2 separate regions of the Homo sapiens genome follow, and region 2 is linked to region 1. Evidence: fine-mapped expression QTL. A gene starts in region 1. The other region holds a variant in brackets. All regions are shown on one strand. Distances are from middle to middle.

Region 1 (8,689 bases):
AGGCTCTGATGTCAGTAGCAGGATGGAGGAGAGCTGGGCTTACAGCCTCTCAACTTGTTGGCCCTTATACCATCACTGCACTCATGTCCTTGCTCTGTGCAGAAGTAGAATCAGAAAAGCATCAGGCACCTTCATGGTATAAATTGTGTCTATGGGTGCAGTGAATAAGCAAAAATCAGAAGCAGACCGGAGGGACTTATAAAAATAGGTACAGGGTCACAATGGGTGCCTATATGTAGCCTGTGACAGATAAGAAGCTGACAGTGAGACAAACAAAAAACTGAGGCTAGAGCCTCATTCCTCTGACTCCTAATCCAGTGTTCTCTCCATGCTCTCCCACTGTCTTCAGAATTGAGTAGAAATGTGATCCCCTCCTGAATCCTGTTTTTTGCCTCTTACTCTCCCATAATTTGGAAATTTCCTTGTCCAGTGGTTTATATTCTTTTCTAGAAAAACTAAAACTGGGTGGAGTGTGGTGGCTCACACCTATAATCCCAGCACTTTGGGAGGCTGAAGCGGAAGGATTGCTTGAGGCCAGGAGTTCAAGACCAGCCTGGGCAATGTAGTGAGACTCCTTCTCTACAACAAAGTGTTAAAAAATTAGCCAGGCATGGTGGAGTATGCCTGTAGTCCCAGATACTCTGGAGGCTGAAGCAGGAGGATCACTTGAGCCCAGGAGTTCAAGGCTGCAGTGAGCTTCCACCGCACTCCAGCCCGGGTGATAGAGCAAGACCCTGTGTCTTAAAAAAAAATTAAGACAGTATTTAGACTTATCAGTTAGATTGTTTTATTTAAATCCTTCTAACAATTTAGGCAATTCTACATTAATTTTCATCAAAATTTATCCAGTCAAAAAAATTTCATGAATACTCCAGATGTAAGAGAGTCACAATTTTCTACGATAAATCAGACATCTTATTTCTAGGGTGATTGAGGGAGGTGGAAAGCGCAGGAGGAAGCCAGTGAAGAGGACAATGGAATGCTGAGTCAATGACATTGACTTGTGTTCCTATCTGCCATCTTGGGTGTGGGTCTTTATATGTGGTTACAGATCCTTTAGTTTGAGGGAGGTGAGGTAGAGAAATAGGATGCCAGCAGGTAGGAGGCCGATGTCAGTCCTCCCAGCAAAGCTGTGTCATTTATCTGAATGGAAATGAGAAAATAAATATGTACTCAATAAGTCACATTTCCCAGAAATGTGATTGAGATTCTCAAAAAATAGACTCAGATTCTTGGCTGTCTGTTTAACCAATCACGATATGGGATTTGAGAAATAAAATTTAGGGAATTTTAAGAGACATGAAAGCTACTAGGTCAGGGAAAATAAAAAGCTTAAATAACTATTTTTATTGTCCAGATCCTCTACTGTAATAGATTAACTATGTTCAATAAATTTCTAGACAAAATTGACTTGTGTCTGTGAGTGTGTTCTGGGAAGAGAGAAGAGTTAAACATAAGGCAATCCATCAGATAATCCTCAATCAGCCTACACAGTTGGTACAGCGAGCTCTGGGCTAGAAGATCCAGGCTGAGGAGGAGGATGGAGAAAGATTGAGATGTAGAGCCTCTGGGTTGAGAGGGACCTCTGAAATGAACTCATCTAGACTGCTGCCATGGAGATGGTGCTCTACAGTAGCCCTGTCAATCGCTGGCTGGCTTCTGCCTAGGTAAGTCTGCCTTGAATTCATGGTGGTATGTTATGTTACAGTGGTATCCATCTTGGTACTTTTGTCCTCTGCAATGGTGAGTGGTGGGGAGTTTGGGAAATACTACCTCTTCTAAGAGGTTTGTGTAAACCTTAATGGTGTCCTGGTACCACCCTGTGAATCCTTCTTTGTAACTAATGTTTTCCACCCCAGAGCCTCCACATTCATGAGGGATGCCAAAAATCGAAGAAGTTCTTCGTAGATGTACAGCCCAGCACATTCACAACTGAGCATTGTTGCCTGACAATTCATTTATTCAACAATGAATGTTTGAGTGCCATGCATGGTTTTGGGTATCCACTTGTGAGCAAGATGACCTAGGTCCCTGCTCTCACTTGGTGGAGGGGTAGGGAAAGCAGGTAGGTACGGAGAAGGAAAGAAGATAGAACTCTATGCCCTGCAAGCTACTGCTAGAAAACTAACACTTCTGTCTTCCCTCGGGACTCTCCTAGGCCCTTTCACCACTTCTCACCTCTCACCCACATTCTGCACTCCCAGCTAAAGCAGCCAAAGGACTATTTGATTTGGCAGAGCTTTCAGGCACAAAGCCCTATGTTCCCTCTGGCCCAAAGCCACTACTCTGAAGGCTGAAAACTGCCCTTTGGCTCAGGTTGCTGTCCAGTCACAGCCTCACAGATAATTTGTGCTGAACCTTGAGGTGAGGGCAGAGGCCACTTCTTTAAATACTTTGTCTTCTCTACTGCCTTACATTTGAAAAGCACAGGTTGGATCAATAAGTATTAAACGTATAGCGTATTACTCCTTTGAAGCCTCCCTGCTTGACTCCTCCCTTTCCTGCCTTCTCATTCCCTACTTTATTGCATCACAGATACGTAATTTATTACCAAGGATCTTTCATAATTCCCCACCCCTGCCTCTTTCTTCTCTTGCCCACACTGTGTGACTTAACAGAGTCAACAATACATATAATTCCACCAGCAACAAAGAAAATAAGTTTTGTTTTCCTATTGTCTGTTTTCATGAAGAGGCCCTTCTTAGTTAATCTGAAAGCTATGGCTTATACCATAGTCCTCCATCATATCTAAAGCCAGGAACTAGAACTTGGGCTTGTGCTTGAGTCCTGGGTAAAGAAGGGTTGAGTGGTGCTAATTCTTGGCTGTCTGGGTGCTCTTGATTAGTGATAGAATCCTAGTCAACACTGTCGCTTATCCAGACCCAGGAGAATAAAAATCTACTTGGCTCTCCTACTCTTCATTCTGGTAGCATCTTAGGCCAGGTAAAGTTCAATAAATTTTTTTGAATTCTAAGAAGTGGGAATTCCTCCCTCAACTCAAAGGCTATATTGTCAAAAACTCAACTCCCGGCTCTGTCGCTTCTTCACTGAGGGCAATTTATCTCCATAATCAAAGATGAATACATTCAGATGAACTCTTCTGTGTGGGTTTAAATTTTACTGTTCAGCATTCAGTCTTGCTAGTAAATAAGAAAAGATGAGAGAAATGGATTGAAAACTCCCACAAGACCCTCTATGGAAAAGGAGCCAAAAGATTGCAGAGGTATATAGAACTTTAGAGCTTTTGAGTTTAATGATGTCTATCCCTATACCTTCTTTCTGGAAAGCAGATTTTTGTGAATTGAGGGCAGGAACATTACAGAACTGATGCTTCATGGCTCTGGAATACTAAGTCCTCTGAGCCTGGATCTCCTTCAGCTCTGCCACCTACCTCCTTGTTTGCTAAATGTCCTTAGAGAAGTTAGGATATGCCTGGGGAACCCTGGGTCATATAACCATGACAACTGGCTGACCCTGTTGTCTCTCCCTCTCTGCCCTCCTCTAGCTGGGAGGTGGAAGCAGCATTGCCCAAGCCTCCCAGGAGTGACAGGAATTGTTTCTGCCTGAGGAGACACTCTGCAGCCTGGGCTCTGTGAGACTGAGGTGGCGGTCAGCCGGAGTGAGTGTTGGGGTCCTGGGGCACCTGCCTTACATGGCTTGTTTATGAACATTAAAGGGAAGAAGTTGAAGGTAAGGGCCTCTTGGGGATTTTGCTGGGGATGAAAAACTCTGCAGGGAAACTACTGAGGGAGAGATTCTGGTATAGATACCAGAATCTAGAAATAGAGGAATTGGATAGGCACAGTGGATCATGCCTTTAATCCCAGCACTGCAGGTGGCCAAGGCAGGTGGATCACTTGAGCCCAGGAGTTCAAGAACAACCTGGGCAACACAGTGGGATCCTGTCTCTATAAAAAAAGAGAAAAAATTAGCCCTGCATTGTGGTGCATGCCTGTAGTCCCAGCTACATGAGAGGCTGAGGTGGGAGGGTACCTTGATCCCAGGAGGTCAAGGCTGCATTGAGCCATGATCGTGCCACCACATTCCATCCTGGGCAACAGATTGAGACCCTGTCTCAAAAAACAGATAGGGAGAGGGGGAGAGGGACAGACAGAGAGAAAGAGAGAAATAGAGGAATTAACCCAGAGCCTTTTCAAAGATGAAACCTTTAACTTGTTTATTTATTTTTTTAGAGATGGGCATCTCACTGTATTGCCGAGGCTGATCTCAAACTCCTGGGCTCAAGCAATTCTCCCATGTCAGCCTCAGTAGCTGGGATTACAGGTGCTTGCCAGTGCACCCAGCTTGAAACTTCTTGTTTTAGTCTCTTTTGGACCCTCATTTAAGAGCCTTAAGATTTTATCTAAAACTTTTTATCTCTTATGGCTACCTGCATTTTTTATTTCCTAACCTGAACTCCTTTTTTTTTTTGAGACAGAGTCTCCCTCTGTCACCCAGGCTGGAGTGCAGTGGCAGGATCTCAGCTCACTGCAACCTCCACCTCTCAGGCTCAAGCGATCCTCCTGCCTCAGCCTCCCAAGTAGCTGGGATTACAGCTGCCCACCACCACGTCTGGCTAATTTTTGTATTTTTAGCAGAGACGGAGTTTCACCATGTTGCCCAGGCTGGTCTTGAACTCCTGAACTCAGGTGATCTGCCTGCCTTGGACTCCCAAAGTGCCGGGATTACAGGCCTGAGCCACCGCGCCTGGCCTCTTAACCTGAACTCTTATAGGAAACATTATTCTTGGCCGGGCATGGTGGCTCTTGCCTGTAATCACAGCACTTTGGGAGGCCAAGGTGGGCAGATCACTTGAGGCCAGGAGTTCGAGACCAGCCTGGCCAACATGATGAAACCCCATCTCTACTAAAAATACAAAAATTAGCCAGTGTGGTGGTTCATGCCTGTAATCCCAGCACTTTGGGAGGTCTAGGCAGGTGGATCACTTGAGGTCAGGAGTTCGACACCAGCCTAGCCAACATGGTGAAACCCCATCTCTACTAAACAGAAAAAAAAAAAAAAACTAGCCGGGCGTGGTGGTGGGCGCCTGTAATCCCAGCTACTTGGGAGGCTGAGGCAGGAGAATCCCTTGAACCCGGGAGGCGGAGGTTGTAGTGAGCCGAGATTGTGCAACTACACTCCAGCCTGGGCAACAGAGCAAGAATCCATCTCAAAAAAAAAAAAAAAGAAAGAAAGAAAAGAAAAAGAAAGAAACATCAGTCTTGACAAGTAAGCTATGGAGCAACTCATTGCTATGGGACCCTAAGGAGTGGGGCTATTGTGTGTGATATTCACCCTCCAACCTAATGCCTTCTGTTCAGGGCAAATGGGCCCCCAGGCAGCCTGGGCCTAGTTGGTGGCCATGAGAGGTAGGGAAGTGACCCAGTGGAGCTCAAGCCTGAGGGCTTCTGATGGGACCTGGGACTCTGTTTTGCAGCTTGAGGAGCGAGGATGGCAGTCAACAAAGGCCTCACCTTGCTGGATGGAGACCTCCCTGTAAGTAACTTGGGCTCATCTGTGACAGGGGATGGACAACTGAGGGAGGAGGAAGAAGCAGGGAGGGGAGATGCAGGGGACTTAGAGCAAGATATTCCCAGATTATAATCCTAGTTCATTGACTACCATGGCTTAGTTATTCTTGCCCTCACCACCTTTTGTAGGGGGCAGTTGGAGGATCTGGGAGGGGAAAAAAAGATGCCTATTAAAAATTAAGCACCTTGAAAAAAAGGGACAGAAATCCTGGCTTAGGGACGGGGGGAGTGGAGAGGAAGGAAACTACTGTTTAAACCCTGACGCAGAAGCCCATGCTCTGTCCACCACCCAGCTGGATGTGCATTCAGTGCAGAGCCACTGTATTCTGTGTCTCCAGCATCATTCATAACGGCAAATGTCACCTGTCGGAGTTAGACGGTGCACAGCCTGTGCTGCTGTGTGGGGGGAAGGGTGGGATATTCCATGTGTCTGGTGTTCTATCTCTGACCTGGTTTTCACTGTGACTTGAAGTGATTTGATACTTTTAGGGATGCTTGATGGCTCCTGGCAAGGCATCTCAGATTTGGGCACAGTTCGGATAGTGAAACTTAAAAATTATGAACCTGTGCAATATCCACCTTGCCCAAGTTACGCTTTTACTAACTCCTGCACTAGGAATCACTTTGTTTTGTATTGAATCATAGAACAGAGAGAGGCGTAAAATGGTCAAGTACATGGTTAAGCCATTCTAACAGACGGTGGTTTATTCCCTTCCCAGGATCTCTTTCCTCCTTCGGTTTTGTGTAAAACAACCTCTGAAGCCTCGTCCAAAATGTTAAAAAGAATGTTTTCTTGTTTATAGTCATAGTCTATTTCTAGTTCAAATTTCAAATTCACCTGCAGGATAAAAAACTAAGATATTGGCCAGGTGCAGTGGCTCACGCCTGTAATCCCAGCACTTTGGGAGGCCAAGGCGGGCGGTTCACAAGGTCAGGAGATCAAGACCATCCTGGCTAACACAGTGAAACCCCATCTCTACTAAAAATACAAAAAATCAGCGGGGTATGGTGGCGGGCGCCTGTAGTCCCAGCTACTTGGGAGACTGAGGCAGGAGAATGGCATGAACCCAGGAGGCAGAGCTTGCAGTGAGCTGAGATCGCGCCACTGCACTCCAGCCTGGGAGACAGCGAGATTCCATCTCAAAAAAACAAACAAACAAACAACAAAAAAAAACTAAGATATTGTGGGCTGCTCTGTCTTAGTGTACATGTAGGTGTCATTGATGGGGGTCTTTGAACTCTGCCTCCTACTAACAGAACAGGTCAGGTCTTCACTTTGCGAGCAAAACCATGCCACAGTGTCATATTCAAAGCTACAGAGAGCCTGAGCATCGGAATCTGACCTGGGTTTTTTTTTCTTTTTACTTTTGATATGGAGAATTCTCAACATTCATAAGAATAGACAGAAAAGAACATAGGAAGCCCCACGTACCCTTTATTAGCCCCGAAGACCATGAATTCGTGGCCAATCCCGCCTCGTCCTCACTTCCATTAATTCCCCCACTTCATGTTATTTTGAAGGTAATCCCAGGTAGGCCATTTCCAACTTGTGTTGGAATCCTGGCTCTGCCACTTATCAGCTGTGGGATCTTGGGTAAATCACTTCCTGTTTCTGATTGTCAATCTCCTCATCGACTCAGTGTTGGTGACAGTGCTGACCCCAGAGGATGGCTGTTAGAATTAAGTGAGCTCATGTCACCAAGGCACCCAGACCAGTGCCTGCAGCATAATGGCACCTGGCAAATGTTCTTTCCCTCTGCATGCCTAGAATTTGTTCTTTTAATTTTATTTATTTATTTTTTAGATATAGAGTCTTGCTCTGTCACCCCGGCTGGAGTGCAGTGGCATTGTCATAGTTCACTGCAGCCTCGGACTCCTGGTCTCAGACAGTCCTCTCACCTCAGCCTCCCCAGCAGCTGGGACTGTGTAGTCCACATGCCATCAAATATTAGCATGGCCAGCTTTTTTTTTTTTTTTTTTTTTTTTTGTGGCTCAGAGTGGTCTCAAACTCCTGGCTTCAAATGATCCTCCCGCCTCAGCCTCCCAAAGTGTTGGGATTACAGGCATGAGCTTCTACACTTAGCCCTAGAATTCATTCTTTTACTCAAAGACCAGTGTTTTTTCACTAAGGTTCCTAGGTGACCTAAAACTTAATTATGTGACTGCTGCCAAAGGTGCATTACTAACAGCACAGCACCCCGGAAATGATAAACGATTGTTCCACTACACCCAGCACGTGCAGATCGCACCCAGAGTGCTGTCTTTGAGTGTTGTTTGTTTGTTTTTTGTTTTTTGAGACAGGGTGTCATTCTGTCATCGAGGCTGTGGTACAGTGGCGTGATTATGGCTCACTACAGCCTCCAACTCCCGGACTCATGCGATCTTCCCGCCTCAGGTTCCCGAGTAGCCGGGACCACAGGCACACAGCACCATGCCCTGCTAATTATGTTATTATTATTTATTATTTTTTTTTGTAGAGACGGGGTCTCCCTGTGTTGCCCAGGCTGGCCTTAAACTCCTGGGCTCAAGCGAGGGTAGTATATTTTTAAGAAAGATAATGTAAAACTGTAGCATGTCCAGGAGAGGGGGTCACCAGACCACAGTGTGAACCATTTGTAAACGAAGTTAGGAACTGGAGCCATTTAACATGATGGCGGCACTTCTAAAGGGAGACATATTTGACTTCAAATATGTGAAGGGCCAACCCATGGATGAGGAAATAGGTTTGCTCAGTTTTGTTCCAGAGGGCAGAGTGTGGAACAGGGGGGTGGAGGCAAATTTCAGCTCAGCAAAGCTGTCCAACAAGGGACACAGGCCACTTTGTGAGGGGGAGAGCTCTCATTCAGGGAGACATTCAAATATAAGTCTTGGCTGGGCGCAATGGCTTAGGCCTATAATCTCAGTGATTTGGGAGGCTGAGGCAGAAGGATCACTTGAGTCCAGGAGTTCAAGACCGGCAAGACCCCTCCTCTACAAAATAAAAATATTAGCAAGGCATGGTGTCACAGGCCTGTAGTCCCAGCTACCCAGGAGGCACAAGTGTGGGGACTGTTTGAGCCCACGAGTTGGAGGTTACAGTGAACTATGATGGCACTAATGCACTTCAGTTTGAGCAACAGAGTGAAACCCTGTCTCTATAAAAAATAATAAATAAATAA
Region 2 (8,689 bases), 140 kb before region 1:
CCATGGGTGAAAATGGAGGATGGTGTCCAGGGAGATGGTGAACCCGTGGGAGTGGGTGGGACATCCGTGATGGAGAAGAGGAGACCTCATGCCCAGGACAGATCGGAAGGCATGAGGTCTCCTCTCCCACCCCCACCCAACCCCCTCTGTAGAGGGGACAGCTTGGAGGTGTGAGCCACACCACCTGGTCAAAGACCCACTAAGACAATCCCTGGGGGGCTCCTCTCCAAGGGCTTCTTAAGGGCTGGGCATTGCTAAATGCTGTACAGGATTTTTCTCATTTAATTCTTACAACAGCCCCAGGGATTGTCCCCATTTTACAGAGGAAGCTGATGGCTCAGGCGTGAGTAACCACCCCAGGCCAGTGCCCAGCTTGTGTCAGACCTTCTGAGGAAGCCAAGTCTGTCTGACCACAAAGCTGCCTCCTACCCAGCATTCCTCTGCAGGGTCCCTGCCCTGCCCTGCCCTGGGGGACTCCTGGGGGAACCACATCCGTGCTTAGGTGTGGCATCCAGGGGGCACTGGGGAGGGAGCCCGCCGAGGGGTGCCATGCGGGACTTGGCGTCCCCACCTGCCTGGTCCATTCCTCCCCCCACCCCACTCTGCCCTGCCCTGCTGCCACCTCAGGGACCTCTGTGGGCTCTAGGTCCTTTCCATCCCTTCCACAGCCTGGACAACAACAGGCCCTTTCCCACTTCCTGAGAAAGTTCCCAAAGAAGTTCATTGTAAAAGCTACTCTTTGTCTTTTTTTTTTTTCCAAAAAATGTGTTTTTAATCAATTTTATAATAAAATCCAAACTGAGTTCTTGAAAACAACAGCAATAAGAAATTGAAAAAAAAAATCTCAGTGCCAGGAAGTACTGACTCTAGCACTGCCCTCCCCAGCCCCAGCAGCAGCCCTGGTGCCCCATTCCCCTGACTCCCTCCCCCACTGCTGGTCACCAGGCCTCCTGAAGCCACCTCTGGAATATCCCTGAACTGCTCTCCTTCTGTCTCTGGAGGGCACCCCACCCCCCCACCCGCCACCAACTGCTCTTCCTGCCTCCTACCTGGCACCCTTCCAATCTGGTCCCCAAACTGTCCCCAGGGGCTCTCTCTAAAAGGCAAACCTAATTCCATCAGTGTCCTTTTCTCCAACTTCATCAGGGATTCAGGATTCCCAGGAATAGAGCTCAATTCCCTAGCTCGGCATTCAGGGCTCCACTGTCCCTGAGCACTCCAGCCTCCCCCTCGCCATGCACCGGACCCCCTGCTTTTGGAAATGTTGGTCCCTCTGCTACGGACACCCTCCCTCCACCTGTCCATCTGACAATGCACCTCATTCCTCAACAGTGCCCCATGGACACTCACCTTCTCCTGCCCTCCCTCGTCACAGTGTGGGGGTTTCTGTCATCTCACCATTCTATCCAGGCTGACCTCGAAGGCCTGGGCTCCAGCGATCCTCCCACCTCAGCCTCCTGAGAAACTGGAATGACAGATGCACACCATCATGCCCTGCTTTGGTTCTTTAGTTCGCCCTATATGTGCCAAGTCCTGTGCTAAGTGCTGCATACAGTGGAAAACAGCGCAGGCAGGAACCCTGCGCCCACGGAGCTTATTATCCCTGCTGTTGTTGCCCAGGTAGACCAGTCATCCTCGGTGCACGGGAGCCACGCATACACACAGCTGACCAAAGTGCCTGCAGGCAGCCTGTGCTGCTTAAGCTTGTGGGGAGAGGGAGGTTTAGAAACAGCTGCTCCCGTCCTCACCAAGGGACTCCAGCCTAGAGAAGGAGTCTTTGGGGAAAGTCCCCCACTAAGCTGCCACGCCCTGAGATCACGCACCCTCTCCCAAGGGCTCTTCCGAGCACCACGTGGGGCTGAGTTACTGAGATGGAGGTGGCAGCAAGGGATGCCACGCAGGATGAGCAGGGAGGCATCATTCTGAGTCCTGCCTGCCCCTCCCACTTCCACCTTTTCTTTTCTCTCTTTTTTTTTTTTTTTTTTTTTTGAGACAGAGTATTACTCTGTCGCCTGGGCTGGAGTGCAATGGCACGATCTCAGCTCACTACAACTTCTGCCTCTTGTGTTCAAGCAACTCTTGCGCCTCAGCCTCCCAAAAAGCAGGAATTACAGGTGCATGTCACCACGCCCGGCTGATTTTTGTATTTTTAGTAGAGACAGGGTTTTGCCATGTTGGCCAGGCTGGTCTTGAACTCCCGGCCTCAAGCAATCCAACCTCCTCTGCCTCCTAAAGTGCTGGAATTGCAGGTATGAGCCACTGCACCTCACCCTTTAAGCAGTATTTTAATGGTTTTGTAGTGGTGGGTGGTTGCTATGAAAATCTCACGTTTGTTCTAACAATTCAAAGAATAAACAAGCATATAAGGAAAAAATGGATAGTCTCTCCCCTGTCTCCCTCCCCCAGCCCACCCCTGGCTCAAGTCAACCTCACTGAGGCAGAGTGGGTTAATAATTTGGCAAGTTCATTTCCATTTCATCCCAGCACTCATGACAATACACCCGAATGACGCACCCAGAGAGAGGACCCTGCAGCTTTGCTGGGTCAGACAGATGTGGCTTCCTCGGAAGGTCTGACACAAGCTGGGCACTGGCCTGGGGTGGTTACTCACGCCTGAGCCATCAGCTTCCTCTATAAAATGGGGACAATCCCTGGGGCTGTTGTAATAGAGGGTGAGATGAAATGCATTGCTTGGAACTTGCTTTTGAACTTAAAAATGTACGAACAGACATCATTCCAAGGTGATACATACAGAGTTAGCACACACGCTCTGTGACTGTGTACACTGTTTCCTGTGGACCTTTATTCACTTGTTTAAAGGGTGCTCTACAGACATTTTGGCTTATTTTTCTTCTCGAACAAGGAATGCTCTAATAAGCCTCCTCCTGCATGAATGGTTTAAGCAGTAGTTTCGTTACTCCCTGGGTTTAGGATAAATTCCCCAAAACAGGATCACTGGATGAAAGGGTAGCTGTGGTTAAATTGTGAATAGGGCTTGCCATTTTATTCATAGCGATTCCCATGTGCCCCAGGACTGTGGGGGGATCCCAGTTCCCCACACCCTGGCCGACTCTAGATGTTATCCGTTGGTCTAGACCTTGGCCAACATCATAAGTGAAAACTGACATCTCATTGTTTTGAAATTGTGTTTCCTGAGTATGACTAAGGTTAAACATCTTTTCACCTGTTAGTTGGCTTTTAAAATTTCCTCCTCTGTGAAGTTTCAGATCTAATCCTTTGCCCGGTTTTCAGTTGTGTTGTTTTTATTTTATTTTATTTTCCCAAGTCCTATTCTGCCCTAATGTTTGTTTGTTTGTTTATTTATTTATTTTGAGACGGAGTCTCACTCTGTTGCCCAGGCTGGAATGCAGTGGCATGATCTCGGCTCACTGTAAGCGCCGCCTCCTGGGTTCACGCCATTCTCCTGTCTCAGCCTCCGAAGTAGCTGGGAGTAAC[A/C]GGCTACCACCACCACGCCCGGCTAATTTTTTGTATTATTATTATTTTTTTTTTAGTAGAGACGGGGTTTCACCATGTTAGCCAGGATGGTGTTGATCACCTGACCTCGTGATCCTCCCGCCTCAGCCTCCCAAAGTGCTGGGATTACAGGCGTGAGCCACTGCGCCTGGCCTGTTTTTATGTCTTTTACAAACACCTTGTAGGACCTTTTTAGGACATTATTGATATTAATCTGTTGTTGTTTATATGTGTTGCAAATATTATTGTCCAGTGTAATATTTGGCTTTTGCCATACAGAAGTTTGTATATATTTAAGTTTTCCTTTTGTTATGGAAATTTGAAAACACACTAAAAAATAACAGTAATAATGAACCCTCAATATACCCATCTCTGAGAGTCAACAGTTAGCAACATATAGCTAATTTTCCCCTGTTATGGAGGGTTCTTTTTGACTTTGCTTGTGGTGGTTGTGCAATGCAGAGATTTTTACCTTTATGTAGTCAACTGTAGCGGTCTTTTCATTTGTGGAGTATGGATTTCATATACCTAAAAAGGTCTTCCCACTCCACGATTATTAGCAAAACAAAACAGAAAGTACTCTTTCAATACTTCTAAAATATGATTTATTATTATTATTATTATTATTATTATTTTGAGACAGAGTTTCGCTCTTGTTGCCCAGGCTGTAGTGCAGTGGCGCGATCTCGGCTCACCGCAGCCTCTGCCTCCTGGGTTCTAGTGATTCTCCTGCCTCAGCCACCTGAGTAGCTGGGATTACAGGCATGCGCCACCATGCCCGGGTATTTTTGTATTTTTAGTAGAGATGGGGTTTCTCCATGTTGGTCAGGCTGGTCTCGAACTCCCGACCTGAGGTGATCCACCTGCCTCGGCCTCCCAAAGTGCTGGGATTACAGACGTGAGCCACCGCGTCCAGCTATGATTTATTGTTTTTAGAATGGTAGCATAGTACTTTTTTCATATAGAAGCCCATAATTTATTTAACCAATCCTCCATTACTGAACATCTAATTGTTTCTGATTTTCCCCTATTTTAAATCATGCTGTATTGAGCATTCCTGACTTCTCCACCCCTTCTGGATTAGGTCAAAGCAAACCTGAGACATCAAATCATTTCATCCACAAATATAAGTTTATAATTTTTATTTATTTTTTTTTTGAGAAAGAGTTCTGCTCTTGTCGCCCAGGCTAGAGTGCAATGGTGCGATCTCAGCTCACTGTAATCTCTGTCTCCTAGGATCAAGTGATTCTCCTGCCTCAGCCTCCTGAGTGGCTGGGATAACCGGTGCCTGCCACCATGCCCGGCTAATTTTTGTATTTTTAGTAGAGACAGATTTTCACCGTGTTGGCCGGGACTCCTGACCTCAGGTGATCCACCTGACTCAGCCTCCCAAAGTGCTGGGATTGTAGGCATGAGCCACTGCGCCCAGCCAAGTTAAAAAAAGTTTTTAAAATAGAGATGGGGTCTTGCTATGTTGCCTTGGCCTCAATCGATGCCCCTGCCTCGGCCTCCCAAAGTGCTGGGATTACAGATGTGAGCCACCTCACCTGGCATTCAAATTTTTATATTATAGCCAGGCGCAGTGGCTCACGCCTGTAATCCCAACATTTTGGGAGGCCAAGGCAAGTGGATCACCTGAGGTTGGGAGTTTGAGACCAGCCTGACCAACATGGAGAAACCCTGTCTCTACTAAAAATACAAAATTAGGTGGGTGTGGTAGCACACGCCTGTAATTCCAGCTACTCGGAAGGCTGAGGGAGGAGAATCGCTTGAACCCAGGAGGCGGAGGTTGCAGTGAGCCAAGATTGCGCCATTGCACTCCAGCCTGGGCAACAAGAGCAAAATTCCATCTCAAAAAAAAAATTATATTATAAAGCCTGTTAATCTTCTGGTCTTTCGTCTTCACTTTTAATTTTATTTATATTTTGATTAGACACGGTATTCACATGGTTCAAGATTCAAGAGAACAAAAGGATATGCTGAAAAATGCGTTTCCCACCCTGTTCTCCAGCTCCAGTTTCCTTCCTGGGAAACAACTCGTGTTATCAGCGCGTGCACATATAAAAGCAAATTGTGTGTCTCTGTGCTTTTTCCATTTAAGTACAATTGATAAACGACTTGAACACGGCTCTGCGTCTAGGTTTTATTACTAAACAACCTGTCCTGGGGAGCGTTCTGTAAGGAGAATCCTAGTTATTTTTGATAGCCATATGCATTCCATTGCAGGGCATACAATAATCATTCATTTATCCCATCTCTATTGGTGGACATTTAGGTTGTCTCCAGCTATTAGATTGGTGCAAAAGTCATTGTGGTTTTGGCTCAATGTTGCAGCGATGCAGTGGAAAGCCTTGTGTATTCCTTTCACTTACGTGTGAGCATTATCTGTAGGATAAATTTCTGGAAGTGCCAAGTCAAACAGGACATGTGTTTATATGTTTGATAAATACTGCCCAAATATTCTCTTTTGAGGTCGAGTCAGTCTACACACCAACCAGCAATGCAGGGGGTTGCCTGTTTTCCTCCCACCCTTGCGAATAGTGTGTTACCAAACTTTTTTTTTTTTTTTTGAGACAGGGACTCACTCTATCGCTCTGGCTGGAGTGCAGTGACACGATCATGGCTCACTGCAGCCTTGACTTTTCAGGCTCAAGCAATCCTCCCACCTCATTCTTCCAAGTAGCTGGGACTACAGGCACGTGCCACCACGCCTGGCTAATTTTTTTTTTTTGGTAGAGACAGGGTTTTGCCACGTGGCCCAGGCTGGTCTCGAACACCTGGTTTTAAGTGATTCTCCTGCCTCAGCCTCCCAAAGTGCTGGAATTACAGACATGAGCCACTGTGCCTGACCTACCAAACTGCTTTTTATCTTTGCTGATCTGGTAAGTGAAGAATAGTATCTTTTGTAGTTATAATTTTCATTTTCTTAATAAGTGAGTTATTGAACATCTTTTTACATGTTTATGAGCCCATGAATTTTCTTTCTGCAGGAGCAAGCACTGTCTCTTCATCTTTTTTTTCACAGGGGGTGGACAGAGTCTCTCTCTGTTACCCAGGCTGGAGTGTAGTGGCGCAATCTCGGCTCACTGCAACCTCCACCTCCCGGGTTCAAGCGATTCTCCTGCCTCAACCTCCCCAGTAGCTGGGATTACAGGCACCCACCACCATGCCCACCCAATTTTTGTATTTTTAGTAGAGACAGGGTTTCACTGCATTGGCCAGGCTGGTCTCGAACTCCTGACCTCGTAATCTGCCTGCCTTGGCCTCCCAAAGTGCTGGGATTACAAGCATGAGCCACCACGCCCAGCCCACTTAGGCTATTTCTGATTTTCCAGTATTATAAGTAATACTGCAGTGAAAAGCCTTGCATATAAATATTCTATTTCCTTAGGCTAAATTTATTTATTTTTTTGAGACAGTCTTGCTCTGTAGTCGAGGCTGGAGTGCAGTCATGTGATCTCAGCTCACTGAAGCCTCTGCCTCCCAGGTTCAAGCGATTCTCGTGCCTCAGCCTCCCAAGTAGGTGGGACCACAGGCATGCGCCACCACACCTGGCTGATTTTTGTGTTTTAGTACAGACACAGTTTCACCAGGTTGCCCAGGCTGGCCTTGAATTCCCGACCTCAAGTGATCCACCTGCCTTACAGGCATGAGCCACCACGCCCAGCCTCTTCAGGCTAAATTTCTGAAAGTGATCTTCATTCCTAACCCCAAACTGCCCTCCAGAAAGCTGGGTTGCACTTCTGCCACAGCAGGATCTTTACTCCTCTTAAAATCTCCGCGGAGCCTGGGTGGGAGAGGCAGAGCTCCGGGGGGAAGATTCTCTCCTGGCCTGATGTAGTGTTTTCCTTGGCTTGTCAGACATGGAGGAGATTATGCCAGATATGATAGTGGAGAGAGTCAGACATGCATGAGACTGGAGAGAGAAAAAAAACAAAATAGCCTCTGAGGTCTCACTCACAGCCTACTTACTCTTACTTTACACACAATTCTATATTCCGATATGTTTGTGACCTGGTTTTTAAGAGTACAGAGCAAATTAGGAAGGAGAAGCAAGGCTGCTACCTAGAGGTACCCTGGTCCTCCATGAAGTTTCCAAAAGAAGAGCAAGTGCAAGTAAAATAATAAAACACAGCCAGTCACAAAGCCATCAATTTGGACCATGCAGTGCAAGGCTTTAACTGTCCCAAGGATTCCAATCATGGATAAGGAAGAGCTTAAATTTGATTATAAATCTGAAAGTCTGGAAGTCAGCTTGAATATTGTGGTAGACATAATCATATCCTCCTCCTCAAAAGATGCCCTGGTTCTAATGCCCAGAATCTGTGAATATGTTATGCTACCCCACGAAGGGAAATTACAGTTGCAGGTGGAATTCAAGTTGCCAATCCATTGATTTAAAATAGAAAGATTACCCTGGATTATCTGGGTAGGCCCGATGTAATCACAAAGATGCTCACCAGTGGAAGCAAGAGGCAGAACAGTTGGTGTCAGAGTGACAGATTGTGAGAGACTGGTGGGCCACTGCTGGCTTTGAAGATGGATGGGGCCACCAGCCAAGGAATGTGGGCAGCTTCTAGAAGCCAGAAAAGCCAAAGAAACAGGTTCCCTTCCAGCCTCAAGAAAGCTGTATCCCTCAACCCCCTTGCTTTTAGTCCAGCGAGACCCATTTTGGACTTCTGATTTTACAAAACTTGTAAGATAGTAAATTAGTGTTGTTTTATGTTTGTGTTACGGCAGCCACAGGGAACCAATACAAATATTATCTGGTACCGCCCATTAAAGCTGCTCAGAGACAGGGAGCCCCACCCTGGCGGGGCTCCGGTGGCTGCACAACCTCTGCAAGCAGGATCAAGATGAGAGGCGCAGGCCAGGTGTGGTGGCTCACTCCTGTAATCTCAGCACTTTGGGAGGCCAAGGCGGGCGGATCACTTGAGGTCAGGAGTTCGAGACGAGCCTTACATGGTGAAACCCTGTCTCTACTAAAACTCCAAAAATTAACCAGGCGTGGTGGCGTGCACCTGTAGTCCCAGCTACTCGGGAGGCTGAGGCAGGAGAATCGCTTGAACCCAGGAGGAGGAAGTTGCAGTGAGCGGAGAAAGTGCCACTGCACTCCAGCGTGAGCGACAGAGCGAGACTCTGTCTCAAAAACAAATAAAGGAAAAAGAAAAAAATGAGAAGCGCGTGTTCCCGACTCCGGTGCTTTTTCGCAAGG

Which allele goes with the higher level. Positions count from the first base shown, and alleles are read on the strand shown. Sizes are in standard deviations (SD) of each study's normalised expression.
With allele A in place of C in region 2, the expression in breast of the gene that starts at base 3,574 in region 1 is higher (moderate effect, 0.53 SD a copy in GTEx).

The links.
Region 2: its variant is fine-mapped to the expression of PLIN1 in breast (GTEx, PIP 0.99).

Annotation. Positions count from the first base shown.
Region 1 is chr15:89,674,252-89,682,940 of GRCh38, reverse strand. PLIN1 (perilipin 1) reads left to right here and starts at 3,574. Exons shown (of 9, transcript NM_002666.5): 1 at 3,574-3,690; 2 at 5,438-5,496. The coding sequence starts at 5,452. PEX11A (peroxisomal biogenesis factor 11 alpha) reads left to right here. Exons shown (of 3, transcript NM_003847.3): 3 at 1-1,406.
Region 2 is chr15:89,815,308-89,823,996 of GRCh38, reverse strand. It overlaps LOC124903551 (a long non-coding RNA gene), which reads left to right. Exons shown (of 2, transcript XR_007064753.1): 2 at 298-813. Among named protein-coding and RNA genes, the nearest start is that of ANPEP, 4.8 kb to the right of the region's middle. RefSeq lists enhancers at 1,220-1,720, 1,721-2,221 and a promoter at 8,055-8,689. The variant A/C (reference allele first, on the strand shown) is at 3,457.